Homo sapiens: one gene and its partners. The protein of the gene in region 7 interacts with the protein of the main gene of each other region in a biochemical or structural test. Each region holds a gene or a part of one and is shown on either strand. Other genes may lie near its edges. The genes, in order: ESR1, SUMO3, CREBBP, RAD1, VDR, XPC and TDG.

Evidence for each region.
Region 1: the proteins of TDG (region 7) and ESR1 form a complex in vitro, tested with the Homo sapiens proteins (one study listed by BioGRID).
Region 2: the proteins of TDG (region 7) and SUMO3 form a complex in vitro, tested with the Homo sapiens proteins (one study listed by BioGRID).
Region 3: the proteins of TDG (region 7) and CREBBP form a complex in vitro, tested with the Homo sapiens proteins (2 studies listed by BioGRID, with this or other methods).
Region 4: the proteins of TDG (region 7) and RAD1 form a complex in vitro, tested with the Homo sapiens proteins (one study listed by BioGRID).
Region 5: the proteins of TDG (region 7) and VDR form a complex in vitro, tested with the Homo sapiens proteins (one study listed by BioGRID).
Region 6: the proteins of TDG (region 7) and XPC form a complex in vitro, tested with the Homo sapiens proteins (one study listed by BioGRID).

What each region holds. Positions count from the first base shown.
Region 1 is NC_000006.12:151,838,682-151,842,181, forward strand, and holds part of ESR1 (estrogen receptor), read left to right. Parts: intron 1-3,500.
Region 2 is NC_000021.9:44,805,117-44,808,062, reverse strand, and holds the end of SUMO3 (small ubiquitin-related modifier 3 isoform 1 precursor), read left to right. Parts: intron 1-1,022; coding exon 1,023-1,112; 3' UTR 1,113-2,446; downstream 2,447-2,946. UniProt on the Homo sapiens protein: Ubiquitin-like protein which can be covalently attached to target lysines either as a monomer or as a lysine-linked polymer. Does not seem to be involved in protein degradation and may function as an antagonist of ubiquitin in the degradation process.
Region 3 is NC_000016.10:3,724,554-3,727,633, forward strand, and holds the end of CREBBP (CREB-binding protein), read right to left. Parts: 3' UTR 501-3,080; downstream 1-500. UniProt on the Homo sapiens protein: Acetylates histones, giving a specific tag for transcriptional activation. Mediates acetylation of histone H3 at 'Lys-18' and 'Lys-27' (H3K18ac and H3K27ac, respectively).
Region 4 is NC_000005.10:34,909,005-34,912,504, reverse strand, and holds part of RAD1 (cell cycle checkpoint protein RAD1), read left to right. Parts: intron 1-692; coding exon 693-951; intron 952-3,148; coding exon 3,149-3,247; intron 3,248-3,500. UniProt on the Homo sapiens protein: Component of the 9-1-1 cell-cycle checkpoint response complex that plays a major role in DNA repair. The 9-1-1 complex is recruited to DNA lesion upon damage by the RAD17-replication factor C (RFC) clamp loader complex.
Region 5 is NC_000012.12:47,845,995-47,849,494, forward strand, and holds part of VDR (vitamin D3 receptor), read right to left. Parts: intron 815-3,500; coding exon 663-814; intron 458-662; coding exon 341-457; intron 1-340.
Region 6 is NC_000003.12:14,168,602-14,172,101, reverse strand, and holds part of XPC (DNA repair protein complementing XP-C cells), read left to right. Parts: intron 1-1,551; coding exon 1,552-1,664; intron 1,665-3,500. UniProt on the Homo sapiens protein: Involved in global genome nucleotide excision repair (GG-NER) by acting as damage sensing and DNA-binding factor component of the XPC complex. Has only a low DNA repair activity by itself which is stimulated by RAD23B and RAD23A.
Region 7 is NC_000012.12:103,975,872-103,979,371, reverse strand, and holds part of TDG (G/T mismatch-specific thymine DNA glycosylase), read right to left. Parts: intron 2,455-3,500; coding exon 2,312-2,454; intron 1-2,311. UniProt on the Homo sapiens protein: DNA glycosylase that plays a key role in active DNA demethylation: specifically recognizes and binds 5-formylcytosine (5fC) and 5-carboxylcytosine (5caC) in the context of CpG sites and mediates their excision through base-excision repair (BER) to install an unmethylated cytosine.

The DNA of each region.
Region 1 (3,500 bases), on a different chromosome or scaffold from region 7:
TATGGAGTAAGTCTGGGCCAAAATGATAATTGACAATGTTATTTACATGGATTTCTAAGTTGGCTAAAAAAGTTCCTTTATGGTTAGTGAATATAGCCCATGTAGTTTCCCCGTCTTCTTTAGATGCCTTCTATTTCTATGCCCAAAGTCTGCAGTTGATTTTCAGTAAGCTGGGGGTCATCTTAGAGATAAAATGTAGATGAATGGCATTTTGCTGACAGCATACATCTTTGCTATTTCTGAGGAAAATGGGCTCTCGCTATTAAATCTTTTGTCAATATTTATAAAAATAGTATTTACATATTCTATCTATATTGTGGAAACTATACATTTATTGATTCAGTCATTTGATATCAATGTTGTTGAGTCCCTATTCCAAGTGAGGCACTATGCTCTAAGCACATGGCATTTTAAAGATGAATAAGACACCAAGAACTTTGCAGATAGTAATGGAAATGAGAATTAATCAATTGAAGATTAATATAGTAAGTAGCAGAAGAGAAATAAAAAAATCTTCTAGAGAGTTCAGAACAGGGATGTTGATTCAAGTTTATGGGGATTAGGAGTGGCTGGTAAGGGAGGCATTCAGGCAAAAGACATAAAAATGCAGTATTCCCCTCGCACTCATTAGGATGGCTACTATATTAGAAAAAGAAGAGAGTAAGTGTTGGAGAGGATATAGAGCAAATAGAAACCTTGTGCCTTGTTCATGAGAATGTAAAATGGTGCAGCCACTGTGGAAAACACTGGTGATTCCTCAAAAAATCAAAATAGAATTATCATATGATCCAGTAATTCTACTTCTGGGTATATATCTAAAAGAATTAAAAATCTGGGTCTTGAAGAAATATTTGTATACTCATAGTTATAGCAACATTATTCATAATAGCCAAAAAGTAGAAGCAATCCAGATGTCTATAGATGGATGAATGGGTAAACAAAGTCTGTGTAGTATATACAGACAATGGCATATTAGTCACATCATGGACCTTCAGGACATTATCCTAAGTGAAATATGCTAGACACAAAAAGCAAAAGTAGGGTTTCACTTAATGAGGTATCTAGAATTGCCACATTCACAGAGAACAAAAGTAGATTGGTGGCTGCTAGGGGATAGGGGAAGGAGAAAATGGGGAATTATTGTTGAATGGGTATGGAGTTTCAGTTTTGTGAAATGAAAATGTTCTGAAGACTGGTTGCACGATGATGTGAGTATATCTAACATGATTGAATTGATGAACACTTAAGCGTGGTTACGATGGTAAATTTTGTGTTATATATATCTTACCACAATTTAAAAAATATAGCATTTTATTATGTAGGCGTGGGTGGGAAGATACTTGACACATTGGAACTTCTGGCCATGCGTATACTGTTCACTCACTTATTCCTTCATTCATTCAACAAACATGTATTGAATGCTTGCTATGTGCTGGGCACTGAGCTAGATATAACAATTAATAAGGCTTATAAGACATTGAATCTATCAATTTCATGCTTGCTAAATATCTACTCCCACCTCCAAAGGCACTAAGCTTCTACAGTTAGATATTCATAGCTGCTTCCTACTGACTTGAATCATGCATAGGATATTAGTAAACAAGCAATAAAAAGATTTGAGGTTGATGGGGGTGGGTTCAACAGCATGGTGGTGAAATGGAAAGAGATGGGTAACAGAATATGAACTAGAATTGAAAACTGTGAGCCAGTGCTCTCTAATGAACATTAAAAAATAAAGAATTCCTATTTGAGGCTGCCAACCTCAGAACTAAGTTATTTAGAATGGACGAAATTGGCAAAGTCAGACGTACTCAACCCAAGGAGCCAATATTTTGTGAATATTATGGCAAATGTAGTTTGAGAACCACTACCACAAAATTGTGAACCATAATAATGACTGAGAAGGCAGGGAGAGGTTATACAATTTGGGCTAAAAGGAAAGACAGGGCTTGTGAAGGGGAGCGCCAGTGAAAGTCAGTGTGGTTCGGGTATTTGGGTGGGGACTGGAAGCAGGAAGCTTGAGCTTCCTTTGCCAAGAGACCCTGCTGGAAGGGCTATCATCAATTGACTTTAGCTCATCTTAGGATTTTCATTTTTTAAAAAATGTTCACAGGAACCTTCACTCCATCTATACTTTCAATGTCTGCCTACCTTTCTTTCTTATACAACTTTGAACACTCTCTCCATTCATTTAAATATATTATGGAGTGCCAACTACATGCCAGGTACTGTGCTGGGCTCTTATTCCACCTTTATTTGATTGCACATGCCTGCCAAGTCCTGGGCCAATATAACATCTACTCCTATGTCTGGTCTGGCGAGAGATGCAAACTCATCTTCCTCTACTTTCCTTACCTCCTTCCTTCCAGTCTTCTTCAAGTTGTCTTCATTGAGGCAATTTCTTTTACCTGTGTTTTTAATCCCAACTCCTCTAGTTTCCTTCTTGGCTTTATTCTTTTATCTTCCTCTTTGTGCTTTCAAACATTCCCTTTCTCCTGGCCCATGCCCTTCAGTCTACACGAGGCCTTCTCAAGTCTCTTCATTCTAAAAAATTCATTTTCTTGGGTCTTATATTCTTCAGCTGCCACCCTATCTGTATCTTTTCCTATTCTCCTCCAAGTTCTCAAAGGAATGCCTTCCCTCATTTTCATCTCCTTACATTCCATCTGCTGAATTTTGGCTTGTGCCTGTACCTGTCTAAGGAAACTCCTTGCTAAGAGTCTGCTTTGTCAGGTCTGAATTCACTTAACCAGTCTTTGCTTTGTTGGACTTCTCTGCCCCATTTGCCATTCTTGATCATCCTCTCCATAAACCTTTCTACTTAAAGCATTTTACTTCCTTATTTTCTTGGTTTTCCTAGAATCTCCTTACTGTTCATTTTCAGCTTCCTTTCTGTGTTCCTCTTCTCTTCCTACATTTTTTTTTAGCTTTCTACTTTCTTAAAGCATTTTACTTCCTTATTTTCTTGGTTTTCCTAGAATTTTCTTACTGTTCATTTTCAGTTTCCTTTCTGTGTTCCTCTGATTGTCTCTCTTTCTACATTTTTTTTTTCTGTGTTCCTCTGATTTTCACGCAGTCTGGAGTTGTCATGATCAATCATAGCCTACTGCAGCCTCGACATCCTAGGCTCAAGTGATTCTCCCACCTCAGCCTTACAAGTAGCTAGGACTACAGTCACACATCACCATTCTCAGCTAATTTTTTTAAGAAGCATTTTTATAGAGATGGAGTCTTGCTATATTGTGCAGGCTGGGCTCAAACTACAGGGCTTAAACAATTCTCCTGCTTTGGCCTCCCAAAGTGCTGGGATTCCAGGCATGAACCACCATGCTCAGTCTCTACATGTTCCTAAAGAGGAGTTTTGAATATTGAAGAACAGTATTTTCAAATTACATTATTCAAGTTATAAAAACTGATATCCAGGGTTATGTGGCAATGACGTAAAAATTTGAATTGTTATTTTTTTGACACATGTTCTGTGTTGTCCATCAGTTCATCTG
Region 2 (2,946 bases), on a different chromosome or scaffold from region 7:
GAATGTTTTATGTGGAAATATTTTTGCAAAACATTTAAGATTTTAAATATTTACTATTCAGTATTTAATAAATATTGAAAACATCTTTGCAACAAGTATCCATTTGTACCTACTTGAGGAAACCTACACACCGCTGAGGCAGTGGCAGCTCTGGGAGTGTTCACCAGGGAGAAGCTGCTGAGAGCAGCTGAGCAGGGAGGGCCTCGTGGAGTCTCTGGGGCTTGACTGGGGGTCAGGGGGCTGGCTGTGGACAGGTGGACCGAGAGGCAGAGGGAGCCCTGCCTGGGGGCTCTCCCTCCAGCCCATAGTGTCGGTGGCAGGGTGAGGGTGGCCGACAGCCCTGATGGGACTCCTTTCCATCTGGGAGCATGACTACTTCCAGCCTTGCTGAGTCTGTGTAGGAACTGGCAGAAGCTTCCTCTTGCTTAGAGGATGGAAGAAGATCAGGGTGGGTGTTTTGCGCCCACTGTGTCAGGAGGAGAGAAGTGAGCGGGGGTGTTTCACTACCTTGCCTGGGCTTTAAATGGGGAGGGGCGGGGAGAAGCTGGCAATGGACCCTCACTTGACGGGCCCTTCTGTGAGCTGGGGGCTTTGGCTTTCATGGCATGGTCCCCCGCACTTGGTATAAAGCGCAAGGCTCCTGTGGGTCCTAGGACTCAGTGCTGCTAATCAGATGTTCTTAATTAGAATCTGATTTTGTGTAATTTTCAGTAAGAATTTTAGACATTTCAGTTTATCTTCTAGACTCAGTTTTTCTCTCAGTTAACATTTTAGCTTTGAATCTGCTTTTGTGAGTTTTGTTAGGGGAAGCTTGTTGAACCGTAAGGGCTGTAGTGAGCATACAGCAATGCCTCTTCCATGCGTGCTGAGCTGCAGTGAGGGGACGGACAAGAGCCAAGGTGTGACCAGGTGATGTCGCTAGTGTCAGGGAACACTCATGCCAGTGAGGATCTTCCCACTCTCTGATGAAAACTAACAGGCTCCCCTCTCTCTCGCTGTGCCTGTTGTGACAACCATGACAGCTGGAGATGGAGGACGAGGACACCATCGACGTGTTCCAGCAGCAGACGGGAGGTGTGCCGGAGAGCAGCCTGGCAGGGCACAGTTTCTAGAGGGCCCGTCCCCAGCCCGGGCCGTCCATCCTCGCATTGCTGTTGAATGGTGAGCACGTGACCATGCCGACCACAAAGGTGTCTGCGGAAACTCGAGGACATTCACCACGATGATTTTCCTCTCTTTGATGTACTTCAAGTGCAACTCAAAACTATATCTGCAGGGATGAATCTGTAACTTAAATTGGGCCAATCAGAATTGTTATCTTTGTTCAGGTAAAATGAGTTGCAAGATATTGTGGGTACTTTTGTGTGCTCATTTGTGTTTTCCCCCCCTCCTACAACATTTTTTTAACCCCAAAATTATAGCCTGAATGTTCGCTTTTAGTCTGGCCAGGGATCTGACTCCTGAGTTGGTTGCCTCTCCCCTGCTCACTCCAGTCACATAGAGAATTGGTGTTTCCCGCAGTGGGGATGCAGCTGTTGGACAGGTATTGGGGGCAAGGTTGGTAGGGAGGACAGACTGTCACTTGCTGTTACAGGCACAGGTGATTAAAATGCTAAATATTGCAAATTTAAGCTTTGTCAGTATATGGAAAAGTTGAAGGGAAAATACTGGAATGCTTCTTCAAAGGTTAAAAAATAACCGAGTCTTTTGGTAATTTGACCCCACGTGCTCTCTGGCCCTCAAGCATGTAACCTCGGGGTCTGAGGCCCAGGACCCACCCCCCTGCCACCCCTCCCACCCCACTCCCTGCTCAGTACCTGGCGTTGGTACACAGGCAAGGATTGGCACAACCAAAATTGGCCTTTTTCTCCCTCTTAATATTGAAGAAATTCCCACATTTCTCATTTGGTAATGGTGTTGTGGCCTCAGATTTCTTCTAGTATTTGCTTCTGATGAATGATTATGGTCTATACATAAAAAAGTAAGACTAAGTATTGCTGAATTTGCAGTTATGTTGTCGTGTATAAGAGCTACTTCCAAGTGTGGTTACAAATGAACCCATGGAATGATGACTTCATGTTCTTCTCGTGGGTTTGTGCCGTGCTGCTTTCCAAATAGGTATTGAATTTATGCATTAGTCTGGTGATTTCAGTTCTGTGAAATATTTTGGGATCTATACCAATTAAACATTTTCATAGTTCTGCCTATTGTCCTTCCCTGAGGCTCCATTGCTGCTTGGTGGCCATTCTCTGCCTTTTTACAGTCACCTGAACAATGACCCATCATCTCTTGCTTGCTTGAAATCTTGCTGAAATGTTCTCATTTCCTGTTTGCTGTATGGGCTCGGGTGGGATGTTTGTTGGCTCTGTTGTGTTTATTCACCAATTTGTACATTATTTGTTGTCCTTTACTACTGTAAACAGTAAATATAGTTTGGTATTCTGTCTCTTGGCTTCTACTAAACACTGCATTTGAAGGTTGGGGCATACTGGTACAATTCAGTGTTTGAATTGACCATTCCAGGCAGCCACTGCACTGAGAAACTTTGATTGAAAAGCTAGCCGCTGGAAGGTTAGTATTCGCCTGGCAGCTCATTTCCCCTCCCCTGGCACATCACCAATGCTAGTCCAGCCTTCTTCCTGCTGAGGGATGCATCCTCTCCTCAGAGACCTCCTGGCTGACAGCTGTCTGAGCTGGCATCACTGTGACATGTTACCCTCCCTCTCCTGGGTTTCGTATGTAAAGAAAGGGTGGATTTTAGAGGCAGGTGAGCTTGGGTGTTAGTCTAGGACATCTCTCGTTTTCTGGTGTTTGAATGTAAGTCAGCTTTCCTTCTGCCATGGACAACTTACCTATCTGCTTTGAAACTGAACTGACATTGATTTGGCTTTAAGAATTTCCCAGTGTGCAGTGGTGTAACAAAACCCAGGTTGAAAATGAGCTGTT
Region 3 (3,080 bases), on a different chromosome or scaffold from region 7:
TTGTATTTTTTGTAGTAGAGATGGGGTTTCACCATATTGGCCAGGCTCGTCTCAAACTCCTGACCATGTGATCTGCCCGCCTCAGACTCCCAAAGTGCTGGGATTACAGGCATGAGCCACCAAGCCCGGCCAGCACCACCTACAATCGTTTTTTTGAGACAAAATCTCACTGTTGCCCAGGCTGTAGTGCAGTGGCACGATCCCGGCTCACTGCAACCTCCGCCTCCTGGGTTCAAGCGATTCTCTGCCTCAGCCTCCTGAGTAGCTGGGATTCTAGGCGCCTGCCACCACACCCGGCTAATTTTTTTGTATTTTAATAGAGATGGGGTTTCACCTTCTTGGCCAGGCTGGTCTCGAACTCCCGACTTCATGATCCACCCGCCTTGGCCTCCCAAAGTGCTGGGATTACAGGCGTGAGCCACCGCACCGGGCCCGCATCTGCAATCCTATAATGACGAGCCGTTGAGCTAACTGTAAGTCATTAGCCAATCTGAACCATCTTTGAATCCAAGTAGTTTTACCATCTTTTATTATAAACACCATCACATTTCAAGTTTCCTCTTTTTGATCACAAATATAGGACTTTTTCTTCTCCTCTTAAGTATACAGCATGAGACACAGCGTTGGGGCTTTCCAGGTTTCTTACAGAAATTTCCTTACGACAAACTTAGGGTTAGCATCCACAGACCATGCTCTCGGTCACATCCTTCGACATCTGGATTGCCCAAGACGGTTGCACAGGATGCAGACTCCAAAGAGGATGAGGTTGGTACATAACGTTTTGAATTCCAGGATAACCTGAAACAGAGGCCCCTCCACTGCCCACATTAAAAGGCTGCACAACCAGGAGGGCGCCACTTTCTGAGTGTGGGCTTAGAGCTGCTGCTCTCGGGCTCTAGCCCCACTTCTTGTTTGAACACATGGCTCAAGGTTTCCCTACGGGTGGAAAAGATGAAGAGGACACTGGAGGTTAAGAACCCAGCAGGCCGAGCAGTGGCAGCAATCTCCACCGGAGGCCCGGCCTGTGCTTCCCCTCCTGGGATGGGGTGAATGGGGGCTGGTCAGGGGTGCCAGATGGTGGTCTTATTTTTACTTGAATTATTCTGCATTTTATAACTCAAGGTTCAAAGCTCTGTGCTAAAACTAGATCGGACCTTTCCAACTTCTTAGAAAGGTTCCTCGAATTCAGATTCCCAAACCAAGTATTCAGCTATTTAAAACCTATCTGTGAATGTAAGGGCCCAAACGGAAGCTATTTGGGGCGTGATTTCTAAAATTACCATCACCCCCACCTAGACCAGCCTTTGTTGGGGGACTAGGGATAAAGTGGGTTCTCTGGGTGCTGGGGGTGGTAGACTTAGGGGATGAACTTCAGCTCCCCTGCCCATGGTCCTCCTCTCAGTTTTACGGTTTTTGTGAACTTGTCTCACCCACTCAGTAAGGGAGCCTGGAACTGGACTCCAAGGGAGGCAGGACCATGTGGCTAAGTGCAAGTATCCCCCGAAGTGGGGGACCTTTCTCACTGTAACAGGGACCGGAGCTGGTGCTCCAAGGTGTCTGTCCCTCAGCATTTCCTCAAACGCCACACGGGACATGCTGCGCGGCAGCGGCAGGATTTGGGGGGAAGTCAGAAAGCACCTCGCGAGCCTGGAGCACTCTCTGCCTCAGATTCTGGGAGTCGTGTACGGGGGGGGGGAGCCGCCTGAACACGGGAAGAAGCGCCGCCTCTGGGGGTGGCAGCTACGACGGACAGGGAGGATGGAGGAGTGGGCCAAATGCAGTTTCAGACCAACTGACGACCCTAACTGTGTGAGCGACAATCACCTGTGAGCCTCGAATGTGTGGGGCCAACGCTGAGCCGCCCACCTCAGTCGCCCACCTCAGTCTCCGGGAAGAAAAGCCTCCGGGCGGCCGCTAAGCCTGGGCCACAGTTCCCAGCCACCACCCACGCCGCCACAACCACAACCGCAGCCCCAGCCTCTCCGCTATGAGCGAACAACCAGAACCATGTCTTACAAAGAACAGACTCAAAAAATATATATAAATAAATAAAAACCTTAAACATTCTTACAGGGATCTTAAAGAACAGAATACATGTTAAAAACCTCAGTAATTTATATCAATTTTAAGCGGTACTTTATATACAATGGGGAAAAAACACATGCATAGTCCAAATACAATGTTGAAAACAGCATTTTCATAACAAAAAACCCCGAACACTAAGTGTTAATACCATGTACATGAATTCAAGAAGGACCACCCTTTTTGTCTGTTGCACACAGTTTATTTAACAATATGATATAAGAAATGAGTTGGTATTTTACCATTCTATACAGTGATTGAATCTTCTCGAGTTTCGTATTTATAGGAATTAGAGCGCTTGCATGATTTACACTAGAATTGCTTTTCCTCATTTCAAGTTTCACATAGAAGAAAGAAAAGAAGGCTTCTTCTCTAGTAACATTAGCATGGTCTAAGAGTGATCATCCCTATTTTTTGTCTAAAACCAGTTTTATCAGAGAAACAAAGCAACAATTTCTACATCTGCAAGACAAGTTTGGCTTCAGCCATTATGTATAGATAGATGTGTGTGGGTGTGTACGTGTGTGCACGCCGGAGTCAATTCCTATCATCCAGGGTAATACTGGGAGACGCCCACAGAGTTCACTATAGAAAAAAATCTTCCCGAAACATCACAAAGTTATCGGGATACATTATAAGCTTGCATTATTTCAGGAATCAGTTCTGAATATTATTTTTCTTCTTACTTTTAAACATAAATGTTTAAAGTCTTGAAAATACAAATAAAAAATATGAATATAATGAACTTGTTTTTCCCGTTAAAAAAAGGCATGAGTCACCAGCAATGACGACAAAAAGAATCCAAACAAAACCCCCCTCCCCCCAAACAAAAACAAAACGGAAAAAAAAGAACCCCCCCCACCCCCCCGCCAAAAAAAAACCAAAGAGAGAGACCAGATATTTAAATCAACTGGTTTTTAACAAAAAAATATATTCTTTGTATTGTTTCTTTAAACATCAATCCACCCTTCCATGGCTCGGAAGTCGCAGTTCCATCT
Region 4 (3,500 bases), on a different chromosome or scaffold from region 7:
TAATTATACATTTTCTAATACAGTGTTCTCCAGCTAGTTTTTCACAGAAGCATCTGTCATCTTCCATTCCTCACTGTGGCTCTCAATCCAGTAAGGAGAAGGAGTTTGAATATCCTGTCATATTCCTCCTTCCCTCTAGTGGTTTGCAGAGTTAAAATTTACACCACCATTAACAACCCTCTTTTTCTCTCAATTTGATTTTTAAATTCGAGGAAATATAAAGAATATCTCCCAGTTGGAAAAGTTGGAAGGATCCTTGTCATAGTGAGTACACTGACGTTACAGTACAGATGACAGCAATCCACTGTTACACACATTGAACCTTCAAGGAATAGCATACCCTGTTCTGCAGCAATTTAGTTACTTGCTGTGTTGATCCATATAGATTCTCTACCCTGAAATTGTACATATATAAAATCAACAAGCTATTTCTGAGGTGTGTATGACAACCTGAAAATGATTCCAAAGAATTATGTTACATTTTGTTCTGGTTCCCAATTTTCTTGTAGTTTTGGAATTCTCTACACACAACTGTCATCAGGGAAGATGTCATCCCTTTTTATGAGGAGATACATATATGTGAGAAATTGGGCGGAATAAATTATTCTTGAGAAATTTTATGTATCATTTCGAGGAGAAGCTGAACCCAGAACTATAAAGCTAAGGCCAAGTATGACTTCTTTCCATTGCAGGGACTTTAACTGCACTTCGAATGTGTTACCAAGGTTATGGTTACCCTTTGATGCTGTTCCTGGAAGAAGGAGGAGTGGTGACAGTCTGCAAAATCAATACACAGGAACCTGAGGAGACCCTGGACTTTGATTTCTGCAGCACCAATGTTATTAATAAAATTATTCTGCAGTCAGAGGGGCTCCGTGAAGCATTTTCTGAATTGGATATGACGAGTGAAGTCCTACAAATTACCATGTCTCCTGACAAGCCTTATTTCAGGTACTTGAGAGCAGTGCAGTTATAGTTAATGTGGTCTGTACTCCATCTTCCCACTTAGACATTTGCTTAGGATGCAAAATTTTTATTATCCACATTTTTAGAGTTTTCACAACTTTAGACAGCTTGTACTCTTACCTCATAATTTTATGGATCAAGAAACTTAAGACCCAGGAAGATTAACTCACTATTTCATATTTAGGTGGTGGTGGCATCTAGATGAGAAGCCCAGTCCTCTAATTTATAAACTGGTGGTGTTTTCATTGTACTACTCCTTACTTTCATAGATCAGGTTACATCATGAGGAAAATTGGGTTTAAGTGTTTGGAAAGGGTGTTTGTATTATGGTATCTTTTTCAAGTTAGTTCAGGATGCAGAAGAAGATGTTTTCTACACGTGGCTCATTCATTCACTAAGTATCTGTTGATCACCTACCGTGTGCTTATTCATCTTATTAAGCATTGTGGGAAGAACAGCTTAAAACCAAGGTGAAGCCAAGAAAATGTGAAACAGCAAACCATTAAGTACCAAGATAGCACACACAGATACCTGGGAAATGCTGTATAAGGATTTAGGGAGGATTGCTCAAGGCTGGCTTCCCAAGGGAGGGCAGTTTTCAGCAGGAGTACAATGTCAAAAAAGCTGTTCTTGATAGTTTAACACAAGTCTCTTTTCAGGATTAGACTCAGAGATTCTAGCAATTTAGAGAGAGGATCTAAATATTCTCTTTTTGAAATATTTCAGAATATTAAAGCCCCTAAATACATATGGAATAAAAGGAATAAGGTATTCTTTTTGTAACTACTTTAGAAGAATTACAGGCCCGGCTGTAAAAGTGCTGTGGCAGACACCTGTAATCCCAGCACTTTGGGAGGCCGAAGTGGGCAGATCACTTGAGGTCAGGAGTTCAAGACCAGCCTGGCCAATGTGGTGAAACCCTGTCTCTACTAAAAATAGAAAAATTAGTTGGGCGTGGTGGCACGTGCCTATAATCCCAGCTACTTGGGAGGCTGAGGTGGGAGAATCACTTGAACCCAGGAAGTGGAGGTTGCGGTGAGCTGAGATTGCGCCACTGCACTCCAGCCTGGGTGACAGAGTGAGAATCTGTCTCAAAAAAAAAAAAAGAAAAGAAAAAGAATCACAGGCCCTTGTCATGACTTTGGGGAGTTAAAAATTTGGCTCAAGGTCTGAGAAAGTTAACCAAAATGGAAATTGGAAACCTTACTTTAGCAGTGGAATGAAGTAAAAAATTCAGGTACTTAAAACAGTATTTCAGGGGATCTCCTCAGTGATCTCTCTCAGCCTGGGTAACGAGATGGACCATGGTATCTTTCATCTCCAGGATGGGAAACAATTTGGTGGTAGGGAGGTAGGAGTTGAAATTTTTTCCTGGATATGTTAAATTTTAAGTACCTGCGACACTAGGGAGTGGCTGGATATGTAGTTATGGTGCTCAGGAGATCCATTTAGACTGGAAATTTAGATTTGGGAACCATCATCATGGCTGGGTATGGATGAGACGGGTCAGAGAGAGAGATTATATTAGAAGAAAGAAAAGATGGACCCCAGGAAAACCACACCTGGAAGATGGGAGGCAGAAATGGAGCTTAGGGAAAACCAACCTGGATCTTATCGCCATGCTCATATAATACTTAGCAACGTGCTAATCCTGCAGCAAATGTTCCAGGAGTTCTTGCAAATTAAATCAGCATGTTAACACTTATAAATTGTCTACAAATAACTTCTGGTATTACCAAGTGAGGAAAACCATGCAATAGCCTTAAGAGCAGTCTAAGATACAGAAAAGCTGTAATTCCTAGGTGTAGGATTGGGAACAGACCTAAGGGTTGCAGTAGACTTAGATCAAGGTCTTCCATGAGTCCTCAATTCTCTCGCCTGTTATATATTTCTGACTTAAGGATGAGGAAAAGTCATTTTCAGAGTAGGATTAGGGTAATGAAATTAAAGTGTCCCCTACCCTTTTCCTTTTACAATTGATTTTCTTCAAACCCATTGATTAGTTGTCCTGAACTCCAGTGGGAGCTTTATTATGGTACTTGTTATCGTGTGTTATAAGCATTTGTGTACATGTCTGTTTCACCCACTAGTATGAATTTCTTAAGGAAGTGTTTTCTTTATTTGGATCCTAATGTGGTTTATTTTTGGATGAATGAATAAATGAGGTAATCATTTTCTATAGGTTATCTACTTTTGGAAATGCAGGAAGTTCCCACCTTGACTATCCCAAAGATTCTGATTTGATGGAAGCATTTCATTGTAATCAGACCCAAGTCAACAGGTCAGTTCTTAATATAGAGGTTGTCATTGGTGATAAAGAGGAGGTTAAATACCAGATTTCTGTTAAATAAAAACACTTTCAATCTGTTAATTAAAATGCACAGCATTTTATAAAAATGAATAGTAGAGTGCTGGACTTACTAGGGGATGTAGGGTTCTAACAGTGAATGAATTTTAAAACAGAAAATATTAGCAAATTGGATAAGTACTTGATTTTATTCTTAGATTTGCTACTTTTTATCCTTTACTTGGGA
Region 5 (3,500 bases), about 56 Mb from region 7:
AATAACAGGAATGTTGAGCCCAGTTCACGCAAGAGCAGAGCCTGAGTATTGGGAATGCGCAGGCCTGTCTGTGGCCCCAGGAACCCTGCTTATCTAGTTCCTCAGAATCCCCCCTACGAATCGCCTGCACACTCTGCAAGGCAGAGCTAAGGGCAGTGAGGGGCACCTCAGCGTCCACACACCACAGGGGCTCTGCAAACCAGCAAAGTAGGTATTTCCTTATCTGTGTCTCCTTTTGCTACGTCTCCCTTCAGGTTGCCCAGCTGGCCCTCAGCAGGTCTTTGTCCTTCATACTCCCCGCTCCCCAGGTCCCTGAGCTCCTCCCTGCCTGGCCCCATACCTGGGGAGACGATGCAGATGGCCATGAGCAGGACATGCTCCTCCTCATGCAAGTTCAGCTTCTTCAGTCCCACCTGGAACTTGATGAGGGGCTCAATCAGCTCCAGGCTGTGTCCGGCTGTGAGAGACAATGGCCAGGTACTGCGGGCAGAGCTGAGGAGCCGCCCACCCACCTCCAACCCCATGGGTCTGACCCTCGCCCTTCTCTCCCTGTTGGTGCCTAACTCCCTCCCATGTATCTGATTGGAGCCAAACCCCAGGACGGGTGGAGCCAGAATCTGGGAGCTGAAAAAGACTCCCCAGGAGGTGGAGTCTAGGCATACCTTTGGTCACGTCACTGACGCGGTACTTGTAGTCTTGGTTGCCACAGGTCCAGGACATGTCGTCCATGGTGAAGGACTCATTGGAGCGCAACATGATGACCTCAATGGCACTTGACTTCAGCAGTACGATCTGGTCCTCAGAGGTGAGGTCTCTGCAGGGGAGGGAGGGAAGGAGGTCAGGTTACCAGTAAACGCCTTCAAGCCACACAAATCAGTTTAGTGCTTTGACAGGTATACACCTGCTGGGCACCAACATGCACCCTGGGTCTTTCATCGAGGAGCTTGCAGGCTGGCTGGAAGGGACAAGAGTGTTCCTTGAGAGAGAACAGTTCAACACTGTGATCATGTGCCAAGGCCAGAAGTGAAGTAGCTCAGTTACTAAGACAAGAAAAACTCAGAGACCAAGCAGCCAGAGCTATGGGGCACAGGAAACGGAGCCCAGGGAAGTTCCCAGCATTGAGGCATGAATATGGTGGTCTGCAAAAGGTAGGGCCATGGTATCTTCAACAACACCCAAGTTTTCTCCTCCTCTCCCTCCTACTGTCCTCCAGTCCTTCTCAGTAGTAAATTCAGCCAACTCTGTCTCTAGGATGTCTCTCAAGCCCGTGATCTTATTCCCACTCCTACCAGGAGTGCCCTGGTTCAGAGCTCCAGCGTCTTTTCCAATAGCCTCTTACAGGAATCCCAGACTTGTGTCTCTCCAGTCTCTCATTCATCTTTCTTACCACTGCTGCAGGTCAATGTCCTCTTGCACTCAGAAATCTTCACTGACTCTCAAACACCCTAGGATCAGGCCCACACTCCCTAACTTGGCTCCAACCTCTCATTCCAACTCCCTTTCCCATGGTAAACTCCACCAACCTTCCATTCTAGCAGCATCATGCCACTCCACATTCAGATGCTGTGTGTTCTCACTGTGCCTTTTTTTTTTCTTGTGACAGGATCTCACTCTGTTGCTGAGGCTGGAGTGCAGTGTTATGATCATAGCATGCTACAGCCTCAAACTCCTGGGCTCAAGTGAGTCTCCCACCTCAGCCTTCCGAATAGCTAAGACTACAAGCATGCGCCACCATGCTCAGCTAATTTCTTTTATTAGTATTTTTAGAGACAGTGTCCTGTTCTGTCACACAAGCTGGAGTGCAACAGAATGATTATGGCTTACTGCAGCCTCAAACTCCTGGGCTCAAGCAGTCCTCCTGCCTCAGCCTCCTAAGTAGCTGGGACTACAGGTGCACACCATCACGCCTAGCTAATTTTTTTTGAGACGGAGTCTCACTTTGTCGCCCAGGCTGGAGTGCAGTGGCGCGATCTCGGCTCACTGCAAGCTTCGCCTCCCAGGTTCACGCCATTCTCCTGCCTCAGCCTCCCGAGTAGCTGGGACTACAGGTGCCCGCCACCATGGCCAGCTAATTTTTTTTTGTATTTTTAGTAGAGACGAGGTTTCACAGTGTTAGCCAGGATGGTCTCGATCTCCTGACCTTGTGATCTGCCTGCCTAGGCTTCCCAAAGTGCTGGGATTACAGGTGTACGCCTAGCTAATTTTTAAATTTTTTTTGTAGGGATGGTGTCTCACTATGTGGCCCAGGCTGGTCTCAAATTCCTGGCCTCAAGTGATCCTCTCATCTTGGCCTCTCAAAGAACCAGGGTTACAGGTGTGAGCCACTGCACCCAGCCATCACCACGCCTTTCAGCATACTACAGCTCCAGCCAGGAATACCCTTCTAATTCTCCATTTTGTTTTTCTGGTCCTGAATCCACTGTGTTTTCCACTGGAGCCCCGCACCTTCTGACTCTTTAGCACAGTTAGGGCCATGTCATTGTGATGCCTTGAACATTGCTGGTGCTCTTATTTTGCCCGTCTCCTCCAGTTCTGCTCTTTACATGCTTGTTTTCTACTCCTTTTTTTTTTTTTTTTTTTTTTTTTTTTTGAGACAGAGTCTTGCTCTGTTGCCCAGGCTGGAGTGCAGTGGTGAGATCTTGGCTCACTGCAACCTCCACCTCCCAGGTTCAAGCAATTCTCCTACCTCAGCCTCCTGAGTAGCTGGGATTAGAGGCACCTGCCACCACACTCAGCTAATTTTTGTATTTTTAGTAGAGACGGGGTTTCGCCATGTTGGCCAGGCTGGTCTCGAACTCCTGACCTCAGATAATCTGCCTGCCTCAGCCTCCCAAGGAGCTGGGATTACGGCGTGAGCCACTGCACCCGGCCACTTGTTTTCTACTCTTGTTTGTAAGTTACTTGGGGGCCAGCACCTCCTCTTAATCACCTTACTGTTGCCCACACACTGACCATTGAGCCGTCAGCACAAGATGATCAATAGAGATGCGTTGATGATTTGAGAGGCCAATGACTAGTTCCACTATTCTGAGTCAGGAATGGGCTTGTCTGAACAATGGCGAGGAAAAGGCAGGGCTCACAAATCAGCTTGCTTCTGGCTTTTACTCCCTTTCTCTTCCTGACTGTCTACTTCCTCCTGGATATCCTGCAGATAGGCTGTCACCCCGTCAATGGCTGCATGTTTATATATAAAGATGGGAAGCTGATATTAACTGATGAGAGTGTTGTATCAATGGGTGATAGATGGTGGGAAATGAGAAGGCTTGCATGATCAGGATGGCCAGCAAAGGATCTGTATTGAAAAAAAATCACAACGTGCTAGAGTTGGAGGGCCCCTCTTAGGAACTCTTAGAGATGGCTCCTACATAACCTCTGCAGGACTCTCCTAGGGTCAGGGAGCTCAGGGCCTCTGGACACAGCCATGGGGTTGTTAGCGCCGAGATTAATGACCTCTTCTATTGAGCTACAATCCACGTGATAGTACACTCATTTGTGGTTTA
Region 6 (3,500 bases), on a different chromosome or scaffold from region 7:
CAGGGAACACTTGATTTTCTGCCTCCTAAGAAAGTTGAGGGGTGGGGAGAAGAGGAAGAACAGAGGGATAGTTTTTCATTTGCTTCATAAACAAATCCTCACTGCCAGTATCAGCTTTTCCAGCAGCCTCTAGTCCTGGGATGGGAGAGTAGTCCAGTAGAGGGCACAGGAAGGGACACGGGACAGCATGATGATTTTCCGCCATGATCCATCTCTTCTCCTTTTCTCTAGACTTCCCTTCCCGTCCCGCCCCGTCCCGTCCCCATCCCGGTCCCGTCCTTAATGGAGTCTCGCTCTGTTGCCCAGGCTGGAGTCTAGTGATGCAATCTTGGCTCACTGCAACCTCCGCCTCCCAGGTTCAAGTGAGCCTCCTGAGTAGCTGGGACTGTAGGTGCCCACCACCACGCCCAGCTAATTTTTGTATTTTTAGTAGAAACAGGGTTCCACCATGTTGGTGTCGAACTCCTGACCTCAGGTGATCTGCCCTGCTCAGCCTCCCAAAGTGCTGGGCTTACAGGCGTGAGCCATTGCGCCTGGCCTTCCCTAGACTTTTCTGAAGAATACCTCTGAACTTACTGCTTTCCAGTTGCCTCCCCTCACTAGTTGAATTCTATCTCCAGAGACATATACATAGAGATAGGCCACGATACTGCCAAGGAAAGCTCTGGGTCCCCCTTTCCCTCTCCCCTGAGCATTGACTGTGGTCATTTCTGCTATGTTCATTCTAAGGGGAAATTTTTATTGCTGGTGTTTTGAGAGAAAGTGGTACTCTAAAAAAAGAGTGTATTATTAGAGCTCAAGATTGATGATTGGTTATTTTAAATGTTTATACCAAAATCCTAGATAATATTCTCACTTGGTACCAAGTGCCAAAGTTTACACAAGTTAAAAGTAACTGGATACTCTAGACACATTTTATATATGAATTTGCAGAAATATATTACGTATCAGCAAGTACTTAGCCTTGAGCCATTGTTTAGCCAGCTACTTATCTATGTTATTATCTACTTAGCTAGCTAGCTGTCTATGTCTCTTGTTATTTATGACTCACCTATGTGTAGTTACATCCCTGCTTGAAGTTAGAATGCTATGAATTTCAGTCTCCTTACATCATATTTCTTAAAGATGGAAAAGAAGTCTGAGTAGGCTTATAGTAGGATATATAAATGGAGATTTTATTCTGTTCTTTCTGGCCTCCAACTGCACATATATCACACAGATATCACAGTTCTGGAACTCATTATTATTTTGGTGTCTTCTAATTTTTCCTTGTCATGTCCAGGCACAGCTATGTTTTCTTTCACACGATCTAGATTGTAGGTTTTTTAACAGCACATCTGGTAGTAATTAGACAGATGATCAGAGCACATCTTGATGAGATTTGGAACACATGTTGATGGAGGAAGTGAGGCTCAGAGCTTACTAATCATCTTTAAATAGTTGCAACAGATTCTCAATAAATAGGAGGGGTTTTAAAAATTCCATTTAGCTTGAATGGAACACTAGGATGTCTGAGTCTTCTTCATCTTCCTTCCTGTGGTCTTTACACAGGGACTTTCCAAGTGACCTCAAGAAGGCACACCATCTGAAGAGAGGGGCTACCATGAATGAAGACAGCAATGAAGAAGAGGAAGAAAGTGAAAATGATTGGGAAGAGGTTGAAGGTGAAACATCTTTCTTTGTTTTCAGAACTGTTTGGTTCTGTTTGTTTTTTTGTTTGATTCTGTTTGGAGTCAGATCACTAATTGCAATCCTTTTGTTTTCTTTTGAGCTAATTAGACCACAGATAAGGTTGTACTAGGGACTTGCTTTGATATATATGGAAAAACTCATGGCCAAGTTACCAAAGAAGGCTGTTTACTCTCTTCCTCTGGTGACTGTCAATGGGGTAGATATAAATAGAGAGGCAGCACTATTTAGGAGAAGGAGCACAGGCTTTGAAAGTAGTTAGAATTGGGTTCAGTGCTCAACTTTGCCACTTAGGTGGCAGTGTGAGTGAGTAATTTAATCTTGAGCAAGTAACTTCACCTCTCTGAACTGAGTTTTCTCATTGGTAACACTCTGTAAACACTGAATGTTTAGTGTGAGCCATTCACAGTATAGGCTGTAGGATTATTGTGGGGAAAAGAAAGTTTGCAAATGTAATGGGCCTAATGTATCATACACTCACAGTAAATACCAGCTAATGTTATCATCCCTGATTCCTTCTGTCTGGCCTGACTTTTCCTCACCTTTTTATTTTGAAAGTGTTCAAATTTATAAAAAGAGTGAAAAATGTAATATATGTCCTTCACCTAGGTTCATTAACATTTTGCCACATTGAATGTATGTTTCTCTCTGTAAATATTCATTGTGGAACCATTTGAAAATAAGTTGTAGATATTCTGATACTCCACTGCTGAATACTTCAGCCTGCATTTCCTAATAATTAGACATTCTCCTGCATGACAAAATGACCTCATCACACCTACGAAAATGAAAAATAAGTCCCCAATTGTTATGAAAGCATCCTTTATGCCTGTTTCTTTTTCCATACCAAGATCCAACCAAGCCTTGTATTTGGTCTTTATGTCACTTTACTCTCTTAATATAGAGCAGTATTTCCCACCTACCGCCTTGTTTTGCTTTTCATAGCACTGCCTTTTTTGAAGGATCCTAGTCTTTTGTTTTGTAGACTGTCTCATGTTCTAGTTTTGTCTGATAAACAGTCACACATCTCATGGTGGTGTTAAACTTGTTTCAATATCCCCTGTATTTCTTGTAAACTAAGTCCAAAGACATGTAATTTTGATTAAACTTTTATTTTTTTTCCAAGAATCCTTCCTAGATGATGCTTTAAACCTCATCTTGCATTGATTAAGCCACCTCTAATGTCAGGTTGTTCCTCTTCTAGTCATGCTACCTTTAAGCTAGCTGTACTACCATGTCCTTTTGACATGGCCTCATTAGTCTTTGAGAACATTTTTGTTCAGCTTATACTTTTCTTGCTGTAGACTTGAAACCAGCCTTTTTTTCTTCAAGAAGCTGTGGTTCATTTTAATAGAGATTCATGTATAGAGACCAAGATCTGGCATTAGATGCATTCTTTGCCAGTAAGATGTCATGGCTTCTAGGCCCAGAGCCTCTTTTAAGGAACTTTTGCTAATGAAGTTTTCAATTAGATCCAGTTCAGCAAGTTCAGTCCTTCTCAGCTACTGTATACAAGCAACGTAGGGGGTGAAGAGATGAAAAGGATATATTTTTTGTCACTTACAAGTTTATAATTGAGAATGAAAGATGGACACCTGAGTCATGACTCTATACAAAGCAAATTGTGCTAATTGTTATTGTGGTAATACAGAATACAGAGAAAAGGAGATTATTCTCACTTGGGTTTTTTTTTTTTAAAGAGTTTTAAGTATATACATACATGCATGAGTGTCAGCTTTTTGATAGAGGGGTCTGTATCTGATTCAACCCAGTATCTCTATGCTTTAGGTTCTTTATCTAAAGACTGTCTG
Region 7 (3,500 bases):
AGCACTTTGGGAGGCCAAGGCAGGCAGATCACCTGACGTCAGGAGTTCAAGACCAGCCTGGCCAACATGGTGAAACCCCCGTCTTTACTAAAAATACAAAAATTAGCCAGGCATGGTGTCGTGCACCTGTAATTCCAACTACTCGGGAAGCTGAGGCAGGAGAATTGCTTGAACCCAAGAGGTGGAGGTTGCAGTGAGCTGAGATCATGCCTCTGCATTCCAGCCTGGGCAACAGAGCAAGACTCTGTCCAAAAAAAAAAAAGAAAGAAAAAAGAAAAACACAATGGCTTGTGGGCTTGTTTTAGAGATGAGGTGTATATTCTGTTCCATACATAGTTGAAGAGGGGAATTTAGGGGTGCCCAGGATGACATCTCTGGGCTGGCAGTATTTTTCAAAAGGCAAGAGGAGGGATCCAACCTCAGGACGTAAAGCAGTTTCTCAGCCTCCACACTATTGACATTTTAGGTTGCATAATTTTTTGTTGTGGGTGGCTGTACTGCACATTACAGAATGTTTAATAGCACCCCTGATCTCTACCCACTAGATGCCAGTAGTAACCTGCCAGTCTTGATCATCAAAAGTGTCTTCAGACAATGTCAAATGTCCCTTGGGAGGGCAAAATCACCCTTGATTGAAAACCACTGACCTATAGTTACCCAACAGGAAGCCCTGATTTTCTTACCCTTAATTATTTAACATTTCTCCTAACTACTCAGGCTTCTACCCTATTCTACTCCTCTTTGGCGTTTCCCCAATCAAGCCTCGCAGGATACAGGCAGTCAGTCCCTCCTCTCTTCTGCCTCACATTGTCTTAGCCACTCCCTATGCCAACAGATCCACCATCACTGGCATGTAGCTGGGGAAGTCCTAATGCGGAGGCAGAGTTATTAGATGTGTTCCTGCAATCATAAACCAAAACCCTGAGCACATTTCTCATAAAATACTGTTACACTGGAGAAAATCATTAACTTCTCTCCAACCACTCTCCCACCCCTGGAACCTATTATTTTCTTCTAATTCTCTGTCTTGGTGAGTGGCACCTCCTCCAACCAAATGCCAATGCCAGAAACCTGGTAGTTACTTCTGGACTCCCCTTTCTCCCCCACTATCCTGCCATGCTCCCCCCAAACACATGAAACCCATTAGCCATGGCTAGGTAATTCTACCTCCTAAGTGTTTCCTAATTCTTTCTCCACCCCTTCAGGTCCTCCTCAGTGCTCCCCTAGATTATTCAAACAGTGTCTCTAATCCATCTAATCCACTCCTTGACTCCAAGTTTTGTTTTTGTTTTTGTTTTTGTTTTTGTTTTTGAGACAGAGTCTCGCACTATTGCCCAGCTGGAGTGCAGTGGTGCAATCTTGGCTCACTGCAGCCTCTCAGCCTCCGCCTCCAGGATTCAAGCAATTCTCGTGCCTCAGCCTCCCCAGTAGCTGGAATCACAGGTGTGCGCCACCATGCCCGGCTAATTTGTGTGAGGCAGGGTTTTGCCATGTTCGCCAGGCTGGTCATGAACTCCTGACCTCAGGTGATCTACCCGCCTCAGCCTTCCAAAGTGCAGGGATTACAGGTATGAGCCACTGTGCCCGGCCTGCCTCCAAGTTCCGACTTGTTGTCTACCAACCAATCTATCTTCTCTAATATTTCCAGGCTAATTTGTAAAGCACCAGTCAAGTAAGTCATCCCTTGCTTACATTCTCTCAACAGCTCCCTATTGCCTTCATGATAGAATATAAATTCTTTGGGATTAAAAAACAAGTTTCAACTGTCCCCATCCAGCCTCACCTCTCACCATTTCCTTGTTATATCCCAGACTCCAAGGACACAGAATTGCTCTGTTTCTGGCCATGCCATGCTTGTGTGTGTCTGTACCCAGCCTGTATAGCTCCCTCAGCCTGGACATGTCCCTACTCTGATCTTTATCGGGATGAAGCCTCCACATTGTTGGAGTTTCAGAGCCCTGGTGTTATTTCTCTGCTCTGGGAAGCAGCCTCTGAGCCATCAGTCTGAGTTAGAAGCCAACCCCATAAGCTTTCAGGGCATTCATTCTATGCCCCTCTTCACTACAAACTGTGCTGAGCTGTAACGTGTATTTACTTATTACTTTTCTCTACTAGATTATGAGATATTTTTGGGCAGGACCCATGTTCTTTTATTCCCCAGAACCTATCAGTGCTTAGCACATACTAAGTACTTAAAAAGTGGATTTGACTTTTTAACACTAAAATAGAGCTAAAATTCACCATGAAACCCTTTCTCAAATAAGCTGGCTGATCCGATGTTGAACTTTCTAAGCTCTCATGGTGAAACTACCTTGCACTGGTTCCTGAGCAGGAGCTGGGGCTGGAACTTCTTCTGGCATTTGCTGTTCATTCACAACTGCCATATTAGGAGCTTCAGCCATCAGTTGTTGAAATGGAAACGTATAAAAAGCTTGAGCTTGCTGAAGGGAATAGCTGAAAGAATAATGAAGCATGAGATGTAATGATAAAATTACCCAAATGTAAATCCAAATGATCAGCTGTACAAAAATCTTCAGTACAGTATTAAGTATTTTGTAACCAGACTGAAGTATTTATTTAGAGTGGATTACAGAGGAGAGATCTAGTCCTGTATGTACATGTTCACCAACCTTTACTGAGTGCTTAATAACCAACCATTAACTCTTGCACTGTTTAAATGATAAGATGTGTCACTGATAAAACTGATCAGTCCTGTCAAGTCAGCCCATACTTTCTCTGAAATAAGATTTGAGGGAGTTTTCTAGTAGACAGACTTGAAAGGTCTATCAACCCATACAGGGTTAAGATGTCCCCAAATACAATTTGTGCCCCTACTTTCCTTCAGTATTTAATCACCTGAAGATCCCCTCCAATCTAATTAAGATTCTCTTTTAGTTTATTTTTATTTGCCTGTTTACTTATTTTTTCATTAGTTTGTGTGTGTGTGTGTGTGTGTGTGTGTGGGGAGACAGGGTCTCCCTCTGTCACCCAGGTTGGAGTGCAGTAGTGTGATCTTGGTTCACTGTTACTTCTGAGGTGGGAGATCTCAAGTGATCCTCCCACCTCAGCCTCCCAAGTAGCTGGGACTACAGGAGCGAGCCCCAATGCCTGGCTAATTTTTGTAATTTTTGTCTAGACAGGGTTTTGCCATGTTGGCCAGGCTGGTCTTGAACTTCTGAGCTCAAGAGATCTGCCCATCTCAGTTTCCCCAAGTGCTAGGATTACAGATGTGAGCCACTGCACCCAGGCCTATATTTGATTTTTATTGATGGTGGTATTTTTGTTTTGTTGGGGCTAGGGCTTTTTTTTTTTGCCACTGCTATGGTTTGAATGTGTCCCCCAAAGTTCACGTGTTGAAAACTAAATCCCCAATGCAAGTGTTGAGAGGTAGGACCTTTATGAGGTGACAAGGCCGGGCACAGTGGCTCACACCTGTAAACCCAGCACTTTGGGAGGCCGAGGAGGGTAGATCACCTGAGGTCAGGAGTTTATAACCAGCC